Linked DNA regions of Homo sapiens. The protein of the gene in region 1 purifies or fractionates together with the protein of each later gene. This does not show direct contact. Each region holds a gene or a part of one and is shown on either strand. Other genes may lie near its edges. The genes, in order: TMEM126A, TUBGCP2 and IPO7.

Region 1 (3,194 bases):
GATTTTGGTTCTATAAGGGATAGATGTCGTATCCAGTTAGTGTATTCCCAAAGTCCTATAACACATGTCAAGATCGGGAAAGCTCACACACACAATAATGCCAAAGAAAAGTTCTTTCTTCTCACCCTTTCAGGAATCTACTTGAAAATGGATCGGTTTATGTTGGATTAAATGCTGCTCTTTGTGGCCTCATAGCAAACAGTCTTTTTCGACGCATCTTGAATGTGACAAAGGCTCGCATAGCTGCTGGCTTACCAATGGCAGGGATACCTTTTCTTACAACAGACTTAACTTACAGATGTTTTGTAAGTTTTCCTTTGAATACAGGTAAATTCTACTTCACTATCACCAAAGAGTTTGCCTTAGTATATGTTATTTGCAGCTTTAGTCCATACTTATTAATATCAAGTAGCTGTATGCTGTAATGCAGTTAAGATTAAATCTTGCTAGCCTATATAATGTGGCAAATAATTCATATTAGTATGGTCTACCAACCAAGATGCACATACACAGCAGTTCTAAATACTTTTTCTTTAATTGAGATGGAGTTTTGCTCTTGTTGCCCAGGTTGGAGTGCCCTGGCGCAATCTTGGCTCACTGCAACCTCCACCTTCTGGGTTCAAGCAATTCTCCTGCCTCAGCCTCCTGAGTAGCTGGGATTACAGGTGCCCACCACCATGCCCGGCTAATTTTTTGTATTTTTAGTAGAGACAGGGTTTCACCATGTTGGCCAGGCTGGTCTCAAACTCCTGACCTCAGGTGATCCACCCGCCTTGTCTTCTCAAAGTGCTGGGATTACAGGCGTGAGCCACTGCACCCGGCAATACTTCCCTTTTTCTAACATATCTTTCTCACAGTGCTCATTTAGAGTAAGAAATATTTGGAAATCCATATATACATATATATGAAAATTATATATATGGAAATATTATATATATACAAATGTATATAAATAATATGTTGGCTACCTTAGATTTTTTATTTATATTTTATAGAGAAGTTCCTTAAAGGGGGAAAATATTTTTATGGGAATAACTCTTTATACAGTAAATCTCTTAAAGCACTAAATGCATATACATTTATCAAATACATGGAGATTTGATTTCCTTTTGAAAATCTACCATGTGTGCTGAATACTTTGAGTACAGTTAATCATAAAAAAAACTTTTGATTAATTATTTCAAATAAAAATATTACCATGGGTGCTAGGGAAGGCAGTCCATCTAAATTTTGTTAAGTGCTGCTCCAAATTTGTTTAAATTTGACGAGTATTTTGTTTTAATTCCCATGACCAGTGGAAACAATTTCTATGATCAAGGAAGACCTATCGCCCATTTAATTGAACAGACTGAGTGAAAATATTAGCCTAGGTCTGTTGATAAAAAACAAGGCAGAAAGCTAGCAGTAGCCCAAACCATGAGATTATTATATCTAAGTTGAGAACAAATTAGAGAACTTTTTTTCCTAAAATAGTTTTACCAATTATTCCTAGCTATTTTAAGTTACTCATAGATGTAATTATACCTTTTAACAGGCTTTGTACAATTACATTTGATATATTACCTGAAAAATACCTGTGATACACAAAAGAGGATCTTACATTCTTTAAATCATGTTTGCTTGACTATCATGACCTTCATTTCTATGACTAATTTATTTCCTAGGTGATTTGGATTGTGAAACCTGTACCATAACACGGAGTGGACTGACTGGTCTTGTTATTGGTGGTCTATACCCTGTTTTCTTGGCTATACCTGTAAATGGTGGTCTAGCAGCCAGGTAGGAAATAAAAAACTTTTTATAATATGTGATTACCTATAAAACTCACAACTTAAAGCAGCAAATATATTTTGTTTTTAAGGCATTTAGACCAAAGGCAATGTTACCCTCTTGATTAGAAGTTAGCAAGACCTGTTTTTTCTTATAATGAAATTCTACTTATCAAGAATTTCAAACAGTTATACTTGGTGTGTAGTTAGGCTATTAACCTTAATTTGTGTACTGAATACTAAACTAACTACAAAGCTGCAAACAGTATTATGCATGAAACTTCTATCATATAAACAATTATCTTGGATGAGTTTGAACACTTGCACTAAAGGAAAATTCCATCAGAAAATGTCTAGCTGTTATATTAGCCTTCTATTCTAAAATAATTCTGGCTATTCTCTGTTGAACTCTTGCATCAGCAATCTATGCTATAGCCTTGAAGCAAACTGGATAAAGAAACAAAAGTTTTTAGGATTAATAGACACTGAAGACCTTTACTTTAATATTCAGTTTTATCTTAAGACTTCTAGGACTAATATGTATCACAGATGGGTTTGCCATTTGATGCAACAATCTTTTCTATTGAACTATCTCAATGTTTTCTTACAGGTATCAATCAGCTCTGTTACCACACAAAGGGAACATCTTAAGTTACTGGATTAGAACTTCTAAGCCTGTCTTTAGAAAGATGTTATTTCCTATTTTGCTCCAGACTATGTTTTCAGCATACCTTGGGTCTGAACAATATAAACTACTTATAAAGGCCCTTCAGTTATCTGAACCTGGCAAAGAAATTCACTGATTTTAAACAAATATGTAAACAAAAATAAAATGGTAAAAACAGTTTATGTCTAATGTTATGTCTAATGTTATGCATAAACATAGACTTGTAATTTATCACGAGGTATAATTCTGGGACCTACAACAAAAGGCTACACAGGGCAACAAAAGGCTGAATCTAAGTAAAAGCTACCCACTTAAACAAGTTTAACTTCACGAGTTTGCCCAGTATTGTCTCTTCTACCTTGCTTGTTCTACCTTAGGCGTTGAGTTTGGTCTGTAACACAAGAGGAAAAAGTAACTATATAGTATTTTACACTGAAGACTTCATAATGACAAACAGGAATAAAAAATGAAAAAATATCTATCAATATACTATACCAAATGTTACTCACAATTCACTTTCTCAATTCAAATTATTAATCCATAGATTCTTAGAACTGATTTAACAACCTTCCTCAAATCAATCATCTTCTTGAGTCATTCAGGCTCAGCTTCAGCTATTATGATATAGACCTACCTACTTCGAGTCACCTTATTTAGAAAGCTGTATTTTTAGTTTAGGTAGTCTTTCAAGCTTCCATTTATTGTGGCATATTTAGAATCACAAAATTAACTAATCTCTCTGACCCTCAGTGAAATAT
Region 2 (3,656 bases), on another chromosome or scaffold:
TGCTTTCTCAGGGTGATTTCACTTCTCTCTACCACAGCTCTACGCAGGACCTAGGGCTTCCCCTTTTCAGAAGAAGCTTGGAGAGGACGTGTCCTTGTTCAGGGTCCCACAGCCTAGAAGTAGCCACGTCAGTGTCCAGACTGCATGGGGCTCCATGGCGCGTGCCCTGCTGGCCTTGTGCTTGAACTGTAGTTACCGTGAGCACCTCCTGGGTCAAAAGCATGTGTGTGAGCAACTCAGCACCATGCCTTCTTATCGCTCTCCTTCCATTTTCGGAGATACCCTGCCTGTGACCAGTATTTGATGTTCATCTACAGATAAACTGTCTTCCATCACACAGGATTAGAATCTCGGTGTCGAGTCCCGTGCTAATAATCGTTAGTGAATTAGCATATTGTGGGAGTATGTGCTGAGTCTTCTGTACTCTATTGTAGGGACCAGCCCCACAGGGTCGGTGGGTTTTTCTCCTCGTGTGCGGAGATGAGAGATTGTAAAAATAAAGACGCAAGACAAAGAGATAAAAGAAAAGACAGCGGGCCCGGGGAACCACTACCACCAAGACGCAGAGACCGGTAGTGGCCCCGAATGCCTGGCTGCGCTGTTATTTATTGGATACAAAGCAAAAGGGGCAGGGTAAAGAGTGTGAGTCATCTCCAATGATTGATAAGGTCATGTGTGTCATGTGTCCACCAGACATGGGGCCCTTCCCTGTTACGTAGCCGAGGCGGAGAGAGAGAGGACAGCTTATGTCATTATTTCTTCTATGTTCTTTTCAGAAAGATCAAAGACTTTAATACTTTCACTAATTTTGCTACTGCTATCTAGAGGGCGGAGCCAGGTGTACGGGATGGAACATGAGAGCAGACCAGGAGTGTGACCGCTGAAGCACAGCATCACAGGGAGACAGTCAGGCCTCCGGATAACTGCGGGCGGGCCTGACTGATGTCAGGCCCTCCACAAGAGTTGGAGGCGTAGAGTCTTCTCTAAACTCTCCGGGGAAAGGGAGACTCCCTTTCCCGGTCTGCTAAGTAGCGGGTGTTTTTCCTTGACACTGACACTACCGCTAGACCAAGGTCCGCTTGGCAAGGGGCATCTTCCCAGACGCTGGCATCACCGCTAGACCAAGGAGCCCTCTGGTGGCCCTGTCCGGGCATGACAGAAGGCTCACATTCTTGTCTTCTGGTCACTTCTCACTATGTCCCCTCAGCTCCTATCTCTGTATGGCCTGGTTTTTCCTAGGTTATGATTGTAGAGCAAGGATTATTATAATATTGGAATAAAGAGTAATTGCTACAAACTGATGATTAATGATATTCATATATAATCATATCTATGATCTAGATCTAGCATAACTCTTGTTGTTTTATATATTTTGTTACACTGGAACAGCTCGTGCCCTCGGTCTCTTGCCTCGGCACCTGGGTGGCTTGCCGCCCACACTCGATGTTTTGTTGAGCTCATCCTTGTCTCCCTGAAGCTGTCAGCAGAGTGGTTGTTTACCTTTTTTGGGTCATAGAGCCTTTGAGAATTTGTTGAAGGGTCATCTCCTCAGAAAATAAAAAGTTATTTTGCCCATAACTTTCAAGGGCTCATCTGTTACTGATTACTCATGGATACCGGCTTAAGAACCCTTGTGTAGATGAAATGTTTGTGAAGCATGTAAAGTTTGCTTATATTTGTTTTGTAATCTATAGCCAGTTGCCTTGCCTGTGTTTTTTGTTTTGTTTTGTTTTTTGTTGAGACAGGGTCTCCCTCTGTCGCCCAGGCTGGAGTGGCTCAAGCGATCCTCCCACCTCAGCCTCCCGAGTAGCTAAGACTACAGGCATATGCTACCATGCCCAGTTAATTTTTGTATTTTTTGTAGAGACAGAGTCTCACTGTGTTGCCCAGGCTGTCTTGACTCCTGGCCTCGAGTGACTCACCTGACTCAGCCTCCCAAAATGCTGGGATTCCAGGCGAGAGCCACTGCACACAGCCATGTGTTTGTCTTAATGGCCTTGTATCGGAACTCTTGGTGACAGAGGCTAATGAGCAGCCACTGGTGGGAGAGTAGGGGCGGCGCTCACCCTGCCCCCTGACCCAGGGGTGGGCTCACCCTACACCCTGACCCCACGCAGTGTTCTGCTGCCCACTTGGGTGTCTGTGACGCCTTCGATCTCATATGTGTTATATGTCTCCTGGTGAGCCCCTGGGGCAGCTGGAGCTGCAGTGGAACTTCACCTAGCTCAAACGTGTAGGGAACGTGTAGAAGTCCTACCAGAAGCGTCTCTGTCGGTAGCCACGCTTGGGCAAGAAAAGGAGATGTCACGGGTACCAGAGTGAAAAAGTAACGCAGAGCCGGCCAAGTGAATGGAGCTGCGGCTGAGCACCGCGGGCTCTGAGAACCAGTGTGGGCCTCTCCGGTAGAAGCTGGGATGTTACTGTGTGTGCCGGTAGCTGGCACAGTGTCAATGGCTTGGGCCTGCACAGAGCTCCCTGTGTAGACCCCACAGGCCTCACGTCTGGGACCAGAAAGCTCTGTCCCCAAGCCGAGGCGAGCAGCAGAGCATTCCCTGCTGGCCCAGACCCATGTGTGGAGGGAGGTGCAGGGGAAAGGGAACCTGGGTCTCAGGCCCCATTCATGCTGCCCACGGGGCTGGCTCCCGGAGCTGCGGAGGCCGCCTGGAAGCTGGAGGCAGGTGAATCCCAGGCCCACCCAGAGGACCCTCTGAGAGGCTGCTGGGGTGTCGGGGAGGGGCCCTAATCCCAGGCCCATGCAGAGGACCCTCTGAGAGGCTGCTGGAGTTCAGGGAGGGGCCCTAATCCCAGTCCCGTCCAGAGGACCCTCTGAGAGGCTGCTGGGGTGTTGGGCAGGGGCCCTAATCCCAGGCCCATGCAGAGGACCCTCTGAGAGGCTGCTGGGCTGTTGGGGGAGGGGCCCTAGGCCAGGCAGGCCAGGTGATAACTTGGTTTGTCAAAGCCTGACATTGGCCAGTCTTGAGTGTTTAAAAAAATGTTTTTTATTTCTACAGTTTGAATTTTATGAATAGCTGTCTTCTTACCTATAGGAGAACATATTGTGATGTTCGTGCCTCAGAGCTAAAACTATGAGTGAATTTCGGATTCACCATGACGTCAATGAACTGCTTAGCCTGCTGCGTGTCCACGGAGGAGATGGGGCTGAGGTCTACATTGACCTGCTTCAAAAGAACAGGACCCCGTACGTCACTACCACTGTCTCTGCTCACAGTGCCAAGGTGAGCACTGCCCTTGGTGTAGCGCTGTGCAGGGTGAGCACTGTTCCTGGGTCAGGGTGGTGCAGGGTGAGCCCACCCCTGGGTCAGGGTGCAGGGTGAGCGCCGTTCCTGGGTCAGGGTGGTACAGGGTGAGCACCATTCCTGGGTGAGGGTGCAGGGTGAGCCCACCCCTGGGTCAGGGTGCAGGATGAACACTGTTCCTGGATCAGGATGGTGCAGGGTGAACCCACCCCTCAGTCCATGTGCAGGATGAGCGTCGTCCCTGGGTCAGGGTGCATGATGAGCACCGCCCCTGGGTCAGGGTGCAGGGTGAGCGCCACCTCTGGTGCAGGGGGCAGGGTGAGCGCCACCTCTGGTGCAGGGTGCAGGGTGAGCGCCACCTCTGGTGCAGGGTGCAGGGTGAGCGCCACCTCTGGTGCA
Region 3 (3,656 bases), about 76 Mb from region 1:
ACTATCACCCCCAGAAGGAACTCTGTATACATTAGCAGTCACTCCACATATCACCCCAAATCTCCCAACCCTAGGCTACCTATAGTCCACATTTTTTCTATGGATTTGTTTATTGTGGACATTTTATATAAATGGAATCATATAATACGTAGCTCTTTGTGGGTGACTTCTTTCATTTAGTGTAATGTTTTCAAGGATTATCTGTGTTATAGCAGGTTTCAGTACTTTTTCCTTTTTGTTGCCAAATTATATTTCATTATATTAATATACCACATTTTATTTACTCATTCATTAGTTGTTTCTACTTTCTGGCTGCTTACAAATGTTGCTGTGAACATTCATGTTTAAATTTTTATGTGGACATACGTTTTCATTTTTCATGGGTATATACCTAGGAGTATGAATTGCTTGTCATAATTTGAGACACCGCAGAACCCATTTTCCAACGTAGCTATACCATTTTATATTTCTGCCAGCAGTATATTTTGATTATAGCCATCCTAGTGAACGTGAAGCATTATGTCTTTGTGGCTTTGAAATTTTTCATGTGCTTACTATCCGTTTGTATATTTTCTTTAGAGAATATCTATTCAAATTCCTTGCCCCAAAAAAATTGCTTGCCTTTGTTTTTTTTCTTTTTATTTTTTGAGATGGAGTCTTGCTCTGTCACCCAGGCTGGAGTGCAGTGGTGAGATCTTGGCTCGCTGCAGCCACCAGTCTCCCACATTAAAGTGATTCTCCTGCCTCAGCCTCCCAAGTAGCTGAGATTTCCGCCTCCCCGCCCCCCCGCCATATGCTGGAGTGCAGTGGCGCAATCTCGACTCACTGCAACCTCTACCTTCCGGGTTCAAGTGATTCTCATGCCTCAGGTGCCTGCCCCCAGCCTAATTTTTGTATTTTTAGTAGAGATGGGGTTTTGCCATGTTGGCCAGGCTGGTCTCAAACTCCTGGCTTCAGGTGATCCGCCTGCCTCAGCCTCCCAAAGTGCCAGGATTACAGGCGTGAGCCACTGTGCCTGGCCCTTGCCCATTTTTAATTGGGTTATTTGTCTTTTTATAATTGAGTTGTTAGAAATCTTTACATTCTAAAGCCAGGCACTAAGTACTCACAGAATATTTAGTCATTGTGTCTTTTATCTTTTCGTTTTTTGGAAATGGAGCCTCGTTCTGTTATACAGGTTGGAGTGCAGTGGCGTGATCTCTGCTTACTACAACCTCCACCTCCTGAGTTCAAGCGATTCTCCTGCCTCAGCCTCCCGAGTAGCTGGGACTGCAGACACCTGCCACCACACCAGCTAATTTTTGTATTTTCAGTAGAGATGGGGTTTCACCATGTTGGCCTGGCTGGTCTCGAACTCCTGACCTCAGGTGATCCACCCGCCTCGGCTTCCCAAAATGCTGGGATTACAGGCGTGAATCACTGCACCCGGCCGTCTTTCATCTTTTCTATACCTGTTCACCCATCCTTCTCTTTGTTTATAAAGTATGTATTAAAGACATTCTAATCATTTGTGGCATAGAAGGCTGAGAATTAGTGAGTTCTCTTGGCAAATTCAAGTTTATCTATTCTTACCTTTCACTCAGCTTCACTTAGTGGTAATACCTTACATAGGTAGGCAAAGTTATCAAAAACATGAAGTTGATTTTGGTATGCTACTATCAACTAATCCATGGACCTTTTTAAAGTTTCACAAGATTTCCCACTATGTCCTTTTTTCTGTTCCATGACCCAGTCTAGGGTCTCACATTGCATTAAGTTGTCATGTCTGATTATGTAAGTGTTGATATATAAGTGTCTTATGTTTTTAATGTTGATTTAATGTGCAGTTTAAGGAACTCTTCTAAAAAGCTTCTTTCCACTTAGAAAATACTCACTTTGAATACTGAGAGTGCCTTTTTAGAGAATCACTTGAATCTGGGAGGTGGACATTGCAGTGAGCCGAAATTGTGCCACTGCACTCCAGCCTGGGCAACACAGCAAGACTCCGTCTCAAAAAAAAAGAAAAAAAAAAGAGTGTGCCTTTTTAGATAGCCAGTTTATTCGTTTGAAAGCAGGATTTTTCTCAGGTTATGTTATTTTCAGCCAGAAACTTTATCAGACAAGTTTTTTCCTTATAAAAGTTTCATAGTAACAGATAAAATTAACCAAACTTACATCATTCGAACACTATTGCTGGTAAGATTTGGCATAATGGCTTTCTAATCAAGGAATATAAAAACGTGAAAATGTGTTTAGTGGTTTTTGGTGGTGAAGTTCTGGAATACGAAAATTGGTTGTGGATTCTGGGGTTCAAAGAATGAGAATAAATATATGTAACATTAATAGTCATTTTTAATAGTGTTATATCTGTTTGGAAATTGAGATGATTATATTTGGAACTGTATCAAAATAACTGTTGTTTATATTTACAGAAAAAGATCTATAAAGATCAGATGGAATACATGTTGCAGAATCATGTATTCCCTCTCTTCAGCAGTGAACTAGGCTACATGAGAGCAAGGGTATGTTTTAAAGCTGCATTATTTATATACTTTTGTCTTGTAATGAATGACTCTGTGGACTTTTATATTGAAACTTTTAAATGTTCACTTTGAAGCCTGTGTCTTATTTTAGGTTTCTGTTTAATGTAAATCTTTACATGGCTGCTGTAATGTGTGCATAGGTTTCATCTGTGTCTGGTAGCAGTGTCTGTCTGTGTTTTTCATTCAGATCTTGCTATCCACACAAACATCATGCGGCCAAAGAGTAACTTGGGATCATAGTACTGGTCTAGTGTTGTCTCTGGACACATCTACCACTGGCCAGCCTCCAAATTCCCACACACAGAACTCAGGGAATAGAGATTAGCTTGGGGGAATTTAAGGTAAGGTATCTACAGTAACTCACTGTGTTTTTACAAAAGGCTTGCTGGGTACTTCACTATTTTTGTGAAGTGAAGTTCAAAAGTGATCAGAACCTTCAAACAGCCTTAGAGCTAACAAGAAGATGTCTGATTGATGATAGAGAAATGCCTGTGAAAGTGGAAGCTGCCATTGCCCTTCAAGTATTGATCAGCAATCAAGAAAAAGGTAAAGGATTTTTGTATGTCAAGAAAAGTGAATGTTGGCCAGGTGCGGTAGGTCACACCTGTAATCTTAGCACTTCGGTAGGCTTAGGTGGGAAGAGCGCTTGAAGCCAGGTGTTCAAGACCAGCCTGGGCAACATCTCTACAAAAAAAATTTTTAAAAATTAACTGGACATAGTGGCATGTACCTGTAGTGCCAGCTACTTGGGAGTCTGAGGCAGCAGGATCACTAGAGCCCGACGGTTCGAGGCTGCAGTGTGCTACGATTGCCACTACCCTCCAGCCTGGGCAACAGATCAAAACCCTGCCTCTTATAAAATATATATATATATATTAATTGTAAAAAGCCATAATCCTAGAAACTTGGCATACTTCCTTTTTATGTGAAAGTACTTTTTTAAAAAACTCATCGATATTTGTTATATCAGGTTTTAAGAAGTTTTAGGGGTTTTACGCAAGTTTTTTACTCTTTCTCTTACAGCTAAAGAATATATCACACCATTCATCAGACCTGTAATGCAGGCTCTTCTTCACATTATAAGAGAAACAGAAAATGATGACCTTACCAATGTAATTCAGAAAATGATCTGTG

Evidence for each region.
Region 2: the proteins of TMEM126A (region 1) and TUBGCP2 purify together in Homo sapiens (affinity purification with mass spectrometry; one large-scale study listed by BioGRID and IntAct). This does not show direct contact.
Region 3: the proteins of TMEM126A (region 1) and IPO7 purify together in Homo sapiens (affinity purification with mass spectrometry; one large-scale study listed by BioGRID and IntAct). This does not show direct contact.

What each region holds. Positions count from the first base shown.
Region 1 is NC_000011.10:85,653,930-85,657,123, forward strand, and holds the end of TMEM126A (transmembrane protein 126A), read left to right. Parts: intron 1-133; coding exon 134-327; intron 328-1,664; coding exon 1,665-1,779; intron 1,780-2,379; coding exon 2,380-2,572; 3' UTR 2,573-2,613; downstream 2,614-3,194. UniProt on the Homo sapiens protein: Protein required for the cotranslational protein quality control in the inner membrane of the mitochondria.
Region 2 is NC_000010.11:133,302,372-133,306,027, reverse strand, and holds part of TUBGCP2 (gamma-tubulin complex component 2), read left to right. Parts: intron 1-3,047; 5' UTR 3,048-3,086; coding exon 3,087-3,236; intron 3,237-3,656. UniProt on the Homo sapiens protein: Component of the gamma-tubulin ring complex (gTuRC) which mediates microtubule nucleation.
Region 3 is NC_000011.10:9,426,129-9,429,784, forward strand, and holds part of IPO7 (importin-7), read left to right. Parts: intron 1-2,411; coding exon 2,412-2,501; intron 2,502-2,637; exon of another isoform or gene 2,638-2,826; intron 2,827-2,902; coding exon 2,903-3,068; intron 3,069-3,545; coding exon 3,546-3,656. UniProt on the Homo sapiens protein: Functions in nuclear protein import, either by acting as autonomous nuclear transport receptor or as an adapter-like protein in association with the importin-beta subunit KPNB1.